Regions from separate parts of the Homo sapiens genome. Here region 1 is linked to region 2. The links come from fine-mapping of genetic effects on gene expression. A gene starts in region 2. The other region holds a variant in brackets. All regions are shown on one strand. Distances are from middle to middle. Region 1 has its middle 15 kb from the start of PLEKHS1. Region 2 holds the start of DCLRE1A (DNA cross-link repair 1A).

Region 1 (4,392 bases), 120 kb after region 2:
ATTTCCTGGTTTTTAAAACGATCATGCTCTTTTGCCCTTGGTACTACATTTTTGAAAAAGCTGATAGAATATATCTATTTTTTGCAAATTCTCTCCTGCTTTTTGTTTTGTTTTTTCTTTCCTCTTCCCCCTCTTATAACCAGTCTCATAAAGGGTGTAGATATCCCTTAGGACTCTCCTTATACTCTAAAGTTTCTAAACTGTTCAACTCACCCTTTTGGGACTATTCTACCACTGGTGATAAGATTGGCTGCAAATGGGAATCTCCTGGAAAGGTTTAACAACACTGCTTCCCGGGTGCCAGCCTGAGAGATCCTGATTTAGTTGGTCTGGGGTGCTGCCTGGGCATTGAGATTGGAAACCTCTCCAGGTGACTCTAAGGTGTTGCTAGTGTTGACAGTCATCACATCTAGTCCCTCTCATTAGAGTCTTTAGAACTCCTCTTAAGAATCAACTCCACTAGTTGGACATGGTGACTCATGCCTGTAATCTCAGCACTTTGGGAGGCCAAGGCAGGTGGATCGCCTGAGGTCAGGAGTTCGAGACCAGCCTGACCAACATGGTGAAATCCCGTCTCTACTAAAACTACAAAAATTAGCCGGGCATGGTGGCCCATGCCTGTAATCCCAGCTACTCGGGAGGCTGAGGCAGGAGAATCGTTTGAATCCGGAAGGTGGAGGTTGCAGTGAGCCAAAATCACTCCATTGCACTCCAGCCTGGGCTACAGAGCTGGGCTACTTTATCTAAAACAAAAACAAAAACAAAAACAAAACAAAACAAAACAAAAAAACAAAAACTAAACTCCATAGACTCCTTGAAATTTTCCATACTTCCTAAATTCACAAAGACTTGCCTTTTGCTTGATGACTCAGTTTTCATAAGAACACCCACCAAAGGAAATGTCTCCTTACTTGATTTTAGATTTTTTTGGGAGTTTGCAAAGCCATTTTTGTGTGTTATTTCCCTGGCTCCTCCCAACATCACTGTGAGGTGGGCATTCAGGGTTAAGATGAGGCAATGGAGCTAGAGCAATGGTCTACAGAGTTAGGCTAGGGCTGCCAAACTTAGGAAAACAAAGAAATACAACAAAAAATAACCCTAGCCAGGCATGGTGGTGCACGCCTGTAATCTCAGCTAGTTGGGCAGGCTGAGGCAGGAGAATCGTTTGAACCCGGGAGGTGGAGGTTGCAGTGAGCCGAGATTGTGCCACAGCGCTTCAGCCTGGGCAGCAGAGCTAGACTGCCTCAAAACAAAAAACAACAAAAAACCCACCCACACCGGACACCCATTTAAATTGAAATTTTAGATAACAAATAAGTTTTTAGTATATTTTGTGCAATATTTTGGGATATATATATTAAAAAATGGTTGTTCTAGCTGAAATTCCAATTTAACTGGGCATCTTCTATTTCATATGGCAACTCTACATATGAAATGTGTCCTCTTCTAAAGCTCAGGCCAGCGTCTTATGCCCTTCTCTTTCCTGCCTATGATCTCCAGCAGCTTGACTACATCCGCTTTTGGAAGACGTTCTTCCTCTCCACTGCATGGGTAGCCGTTATCCTCAGAAAGAACCTCTTCTGTATGTCAGCATCATTTGCATGTCCTTTTTTCTTTTCTTCATCCTAATCTCCTTTCTGTGGCCTCAATTATTGATAAGATCAAGCTGGTTTAAAAAACACAACCCAACATTTACTTGACTTTTGCTTGATGTCTTAGTTTTCATAACAACATCCAACAAAGGAAATGTCTCCTTATTTGATTTTAGATTTTTGGGGAGTTTTGCAAAGCCATTTCTGTGTGTTATTTCCCTGGCTCCACCTAACATCCCTGTGAGGTGGGCACAAGACCTGTGGAGGTAGGTATTATTTCCTAGGTACTCACATAGGACTAATTCTATTTGAGGATGAAAGAAGAAAGGTTTGGAGAGATTAAGAGACTCCTCAAGGTCATATAGCTTGG[A/G]AGTGCCGAAGTTGGGATTTGAACCTGGGGCTATCTGACACCAGGGCCTTTTTTTTCTTAATTAGCATGCTAGGAAAACAAGAAGATGGTATTGAGGACCTTGTGGCTTAGCCATTCAAGTTTTCCAGACTTGCTCAATTTGGCTTTCTGCAACTCCTGGGGTTTGGAACAATCATTGGATAAACCTTTTCCATTCCATGTGGGTGGCTAGAGAGATAAAAAGTGTTGACAATATAGCAACCCATAAGATGCATGCATATTCTTGGAAACCTTATTTTTAACCCTGAAAAAAAAAGTGTCACCACAAGGCTCTTGAAGAAAGATTTCAGCAGTCATTGCCAGCAAAGTCAACACTAAGTCAACCCAGGGACTTGCTCTTTAAACACATTTGCTGAGGCTAAGGGGCAAATAGTTTATACGATTCTGGGTAGCTGGCCACAAATATGTGTCAAAGAGGCTTTTTTCCAAGTGTTCAGTATCTTTTTTGGTATAAGCTTCTCCTGTGCTTTAGCCCTCTGTAAATATTTGTGCAATTAATGTATGCTGGCAAATGTCTCAAGAGGAAAGCAGGCTACATTATGCCAAGCAAAATTGTAATTAGTAACACAAAAGAAAAAGAATTTGTCTCTTTCATCTCAGTGCTTAAAAACTGTCAGCACTTAAGGCAGCTGGAAGCTTCAGAAAAGATAATTTGCAAAAGCTGATTTTCCTAAGCGGTTGAGAATGGGTCCTATATCCTAATATATTTTTAAAAACCACATTCACTTGAGAATTCTGTGTTCCCTTCCCTACTTAACATTAATCTAGTTAATTACAAAAGGTGCTGTAGAGAAAAGTTCCTTTAAAAATGTCAACCTCAAAATGTTGTTAAGGGGAGCATTTTGCATTGTGGCACCTATGAGGCACTGGAGGAGAGGGAATACATGAGTGGCCCATCTTGTCTAGAAATGATTGCCTAAGTGATGCAATCGAGAGGAAGAGAAAGACGTGTGCCTGCTGACACCAGCTGGAGAAGTCAGTGCACCTGGACCCATTCAGTGAAAGCTGTCTGCTGATCCACCCCTCCCTCACACTTCACAGTCTTCCTCAAACCTGCCTGGCCAACAAGGGCTTGGCATTCCTGTGCAGCCTCTGGAAGTTTCTGGACAAGAATGCTCCAGTACTGAACTCATTTATGCCCTGAATCCTTTGCTATTCAATCTGGGGATAGGATGGCTAGCCAGGTCTTTGAACAGCCAATGCGCTGCTGGCCCCTGGGTGATCTTTTCCAGCTGTTTAATTTGGGCTTTGCTGCCACTCCTGCAGATCTGCAAGGGAGTCTTTTGGTATCAGAATAATCCATGTTGTCTGAGGACCACCTGCCTCAGAATATCTAGGCAGGTTGGTTAAACATGCAGATTCCTGGTCTCCACCCTAGACCTATTGATTTGCAATGAGGATGCAGTGGGACATAGTGATTTCCTTCCTAAACCGATCTTCCAGGAATTCTCAGGCCATCTTCTACCTGCTAACCTTAATTTCCTCTCCACCACCTTCCCTTCAGCCTTTTTTGGAGGCTGGAATGGAAGATGATGAAAACAGTTCCTTTGGAACCTCTCTTGGAATCCCCAGGCAGGATGCACCCCCTCTGTATTCCTGGGTAATGTACACATGACTGTGTTACAGCCACTAAGCCCTAGAGTGATTTGTTCACCTCCTTTGGTATAAGCATCCTTTCTTGGTCATCTTTCTAGCCCCATCCCTAATATGACATCTGGCATCTAGTAGGACTCTGAATGTTTGCTAAATAAAGCAGTCGCTGATCTAATCCCTTCACTTCTGGGAGACCTCAGGTTGAAAGCATAGACTGAAAAGCATGACTAAGGAAGAGACCTGGAGGCAGAAAGAGCAAGTGAGGCATCCAGGGGGGCATCTTCCGTTCTTGCCCCTCCATGAGCCTCATGTCATCGTCATCATCATCATTCATCACCATCATCTTTGATATCTACTACTTGTCGATTACTTTGTAACTGAGCAGCTTAGTTTCAAACTGTTTTAAGAACTTTTTTCCTTTCCTTTTCCACCTTATGCTCCCATGCCTATGCACAGTTATTTACCTAGATTCTTGTTAAGCTCACACCATGCCCACTTATCTGGTCATGTATTTCCTTAGAAGCTTCAGGGGCCGAATCCTGACATGGACGAGGCATCTCTGGAACTCTCCCCCTAGCGGGAGATGACTTCAAGGACGGAGTTCACTCCCAGCGAGACATTAACTGCACAATTGACTGCAATTAATTTGTAAGCTGGTTGGGCCCAAGATGGTGCTGGCCCCTTCGCCAGTTGGAGCAATAATTTAAGATAAGCCATCGGAGTGAAACATGCCACCTGGCACCTCCGAGCCCCTCCCCCTCCCTGTATTCCAAGCCTCTATTCTTAAACCATTGCCCA
Region 2 (4,392 bases):
TAGAAAATAAAAAACATTCCCCAAATCCCAGTTGATGGCCTGCTTGTTTATAACAGTGTACTTACTATATAACTACCTTCTGCACCAAAACTTTTTAAAATCATATATTTGTATAGATGTAAACAATCTTTTAAAGTTTGATGGGATAAGCATTCATGTACCCAATTCTTTTGTAAGAATTCCACAATATTTCAAATCCAGTATAAGATTAATAGCAGGAAAAATAAGCACTTCTCAAGGTGAGTAGTGCAAAAGACTTGGAAAGACACCAATACTCTGTTGTCGGAGGCAGGTTCCGATATACCTCCCATGAGATAACTGAATTCTGCCACATCCAACCAATTAACTATACATGTGGTTTCAGTGTCACGCCAGGACACATGCCAGCACCATCAGGCAAAGCAATGCTACTCCCATCCAAAGAAGGTAAAATACGTTTTCATTTATCATGGCAAGATATGCTTCACAAACATCCCTGCCGGGAATATCTGTTCCTTCATGCTCCAAAAGCTCACATGGCCAGGATTTAAACCCTGGAAATAGGCTATAATTGATTCCGATTTTTAAAAGTATTAGTTTCACGACTTTGAACGGAGAAGCACAGTACAGCTAAGAAACCAGCAAATCCAGGGCCTGTATAATCCAACTGGGGCAGTTATCAGCTGTGAGGCCCTGGGCATGTGACTTAACCTCTCTGTGCTTCCATTTCCTCAACTGTGAAAGGGGAATGATAGGAGCACCTCACTGGGATATAGAGGTAATTGAATAAGGTAATATCTCCTCAAGTGTTTAGGTATCCCCTCAAGTGTTTAGGACTGTGTGTGGCAGGCCGGGCGCGGTGGCTCACGCCTGTAATCCCAGCACTTTGGGAAACGGAGGCGGGAGGATCACTTGAAATCAGGAGGTCGAGACCAGCCTGGCCAACATAGTGAAACGCCGTCTCTACTAAAAATACAAACAAAACAAAACAAAACAAAACAAAACAAAACAACTAGCCAGGCGTGGTGGCGCGGGCCTGTAGTCCCAGCTACTCCGGAGGCTGAGGCAGGTGAATCGCCTGAACCTGGGAGGCGGAGGTTGCAGTGAGCCAAGATCACGCCACTGTACTCCAGCCTGGGAGACAGAGCGAGACTCCGTATCAAAAAAAAACAAAAAAAAACCCTGTGTGTGATACATGAAAAAGTGATCAATAAATGTCAAGATGATGCAGAAAGATGACCAGAAGACACTGGGGAACCAGATTGAATGGACAGAATGGTGTGGACGTTGCAATCATTGCCACCGGGGACACTAAATATTCACGGAGTGTCCACTTGGCTAATATCAGGCGCGGGCGGAACTCAGGATACACAGACGAGTATGTGGATCCCCGTGCCAGGGAAACCCCCGTCGGTGGCCGCTTGGGGACCCCTGGGAATTGCAGAACACGCGAACAGCGGCCCAAGTTAGGCGAAGGGCCACTCCCCGGGGCGCCAGCGGCACAAACCCGCCTAGCCCACCGCTTCGCGGGAGGGCGCCGTCCCCGAGGAAGGGGAGGTGCCGGGAGGGGCCCCCACCCCGACGCCAGCCCCTCACCTTCCGGAAACTCGGGTACTGACAAGTCCTGCTCCCAGCCGTCCACCTTCTGCAGATACTGGTAGACCAGGCTGTCCTTCTCCTGCTGGGTAACGGCGTCGAGCAGGGCGTACTCTAGCGAGGTCTGCGCGGGGAGCAGGCCGGAGAGGCTGCGGCCCCGGCCTCCGGGCGCCGCCATGTTTCCGCCGGGCTCCCGATGCGGCCGCCGGGCCCGCGGGAGAGTCTCGCTGGGAGAGACGAAACGTTCACTGTCCTGTGGTTTCCAAACGGCGCATTCACCTCACCCTCCACTAGCCCCACTCCACGCCAATGACACTTTTTTCTTTTTAAAGCATAGGTCCAAGTGCCAAAAGTCCAAATCGGCGCAGTTCCCGGGGACGTAATTAAACTGCCGTCCGACCCACCCCGCCCCTTTTCGGTCCCCACGCCGCAGCCGAGCCTGGACATTGAGAGCGTCAGATTCAACATGGAATAAGGCCTTAGGGACAGCGTCCCAGAGGCGCTAAGGGAAACATCCCCAACCCTCCACATTGGGAATTAGCGGACTTTCGAACACAAATAAAATACAATAAATCCGTAGGACTTAAAAGGGCAATGTATTTTTAAAAATTATTTTTAAAGTCTCTCTCTTTGAACAGCATCCGCCGATTCGACACGGCACTGGCAGCGGGAACTTGTTCCCGCCAAGACCCTAAAGGTAAAGCGGGTAGGGATAACCTCCAGAGAGAAGGCTTTGTAAACTGGAAGTGACTGGCGCGAGTGGCTTTCACTTATACACAAACACAGCGTTTTGTCATCTGGGAGTGCTGAAAGTGCGGGCGCGAACACATTTTTAGATGGGGGTGCCGGGAGGAGCGGATGCAGCTGGAGCGGCTCCCTTGGGGTGCCGAGTGGCAGGTGGGGGGCGGTGAGGGTCCTTGAGGGCGGGCCTTAGAGTCTTCAGAAGGGCAGGACTCTGAGGGCTTTTTGGAGCTCGCTATGCTTAACCTGGAGATGATTAAGGCCCCGCTTCCTGGCCTCCCAGCCTCTAATGCCAAAAGATAAGGGAGAGGCTGGCGTGTGACCCCGTTTTGAGTCAGGTGGACAGAGGGCTGGCCACCTTCGGAACCATGGGTGCAATACGGAGTCAGACCTCAATACAAGCCCACTCTTTCACATATTTGAACTTTTTTCACATATCAACTTTTTTTGTTCACTGTGCAGGGATTGTTCATTGCTGCTGGAGGAAGATCATGGACTGTCGCGGGAAACTGAAGTGGTTGAGTATCCACTAGTCGTGGATGAGGGCAGTGACTTCGCAGTTTTTTGCGAATTACACATCTCTTTGATTATGTTGTGACTAGTTTTGTTAGATAGTCATTTAGTGTTTGGGATACCTGTTAAGCCCTTTGTCCAGGGACTGTGGTTGGATTTATGAATTATTTGGACGGTTGTCCACTTGAAAGAACTGACAGTAGCTTCATAACAATGTTACAAATCTCGTTCTAAGATTAAGCTGTTGAACCTATATTTGCCATTAGCGCTTAATTTTTGAAGTATTATTTTTATGAATCAAGCCCTGGAAAAGGACAAGATATTTGAATGAAATAGCACCCATAATGGAGAACTTCACAGTTGCTACTCCTGTGATAGGTTTATCTTAGTTTCATTGTGGTATAAATGGAATAGCAGGTGTTGTCAGGTACAAGGTTTGTAGCTTGCCAATATGTTCATTACCAACACTGCAGATTCCCATTGAGTTGGTGGGGGTTTTGTTACCTTTGTTTTTTTTCTCAGCAAAATAATTCTATAACTTTTTGTTTGTGACAAGAAATGGACTTTCAGTTTACTTAAGATTAATACTTCTTGAATGATAAAATCATTTTGCCATGTTAGAAGACATTTCCGAAGAAGACATTTGGGAATACAAATCTAAAAGAAAACCAAAACGAGTTGATCCAAATAATGGCTCTAAAAATATTCTAAAATCTGTTGAAAAAGCAACAGATGGAAAATACCAGTCAAAACGGAGTAGAAACAGAAAAAGAGCCGCAGAAGCTAAAGAGGTGAAGGACCATGAAGTGCCCCTTGGAAATGCAGGTTGTCAGACTTCTGTTGCTTCTAGTCAGAATTCAAGTTGTGGAGATGGTATTCAGCAGACCCAAGACAAGGAAACTACTCCAGGAAAACTCTGTAGAACTCAAAAAAGCCAACACGTGTCCCCAAAGATACGTCCAGTTTATGATGGATACTGTCCAAATTGCCAGATGCCTTTTTCCTCATTGATAGGGCAGACACCTCGATGGCATGTTTTTGAATGTTTGGATTCTCCACCACGCTCTGAAACAGGTAAGACTGCAGAAAACGTAGTAGTTTCTAAATAATCTAAAAAGTCTTCATTAGGTCAGACATACCAATTCAGTGAAACAAGGAAGGCAAGCAGTAACCTAAAAGAGAGATGAGACACTGGGAAACACCATACCAGTCAACGGTATAATTGTAAAGCAAATGGCAGACTAGAAAACAGTTTAAATACATTGTGTTATTTCATAAAAGTTCCTAAGTATCTGGATTATTTTCCATAAATGTTAACTGAATCCTTACTATGCTGGGTACTTTCACACTGTCTACTTACCCAACTTTCACAATCACCATATAAGGTAGCTAGTATTGACATTTTATAGATGAAAGTTCTTAAAAGTCAGATAACTTGTCCAATTGGTTATTTATTTTTTTGAGACGGAGTCTCTCTCTGTTGCCCAGATTGGAGTGCAGTGGCGCTATCTTGGCTCACTGCAAGCTCCGCTTCCTAGGTTCATGCCATTCTCCTGCCTCAGC

The links. PIP is the estimated chance that this variant, and not a neighbour inherited with it, causes the effect. A credible set is the group of variants that fine-mapping cannot tell apart.
Region 1: its variant is the best candidate, but not a certain one, in a credible set for the expression of DCLRE1A in lung (TOPMed, PIP 0.70).

The regions. Positions count from the first base shown.
Region 1 is chr10:113,734,678-113,739,069 of GRCh38, reverse strand. No RefSeq gene overlaps it. Among named protein-coding and RNA genes, the nearest start is that of PLEKHS1, 15 kb to the left of the region's middle. The variant A/G (reference allele first, on the strand shown) is at 1,963.
Region 2 is chr10:113,852,234-113,856,625 of GRCh38, reverse strand. It overlaps DCLRE1A (DNA cross-link repair 1A), which reads left to right and starts at 2,544. Exons shown (of 9, transcript NM_014881.5): 1 at 2,544-3,903. The coding sequence starts at 3,444. NHLRC2 (NHL repeat containing 2) reads right to left here and starts at 1,965. Exons shown (of 11, transcript NM_198514.4): 1 at 1,576-1,965. The coding sequence starts at 1,753. RefSeq lists an enhancer at 781-1,485 and a silencer at 1,496-1,855.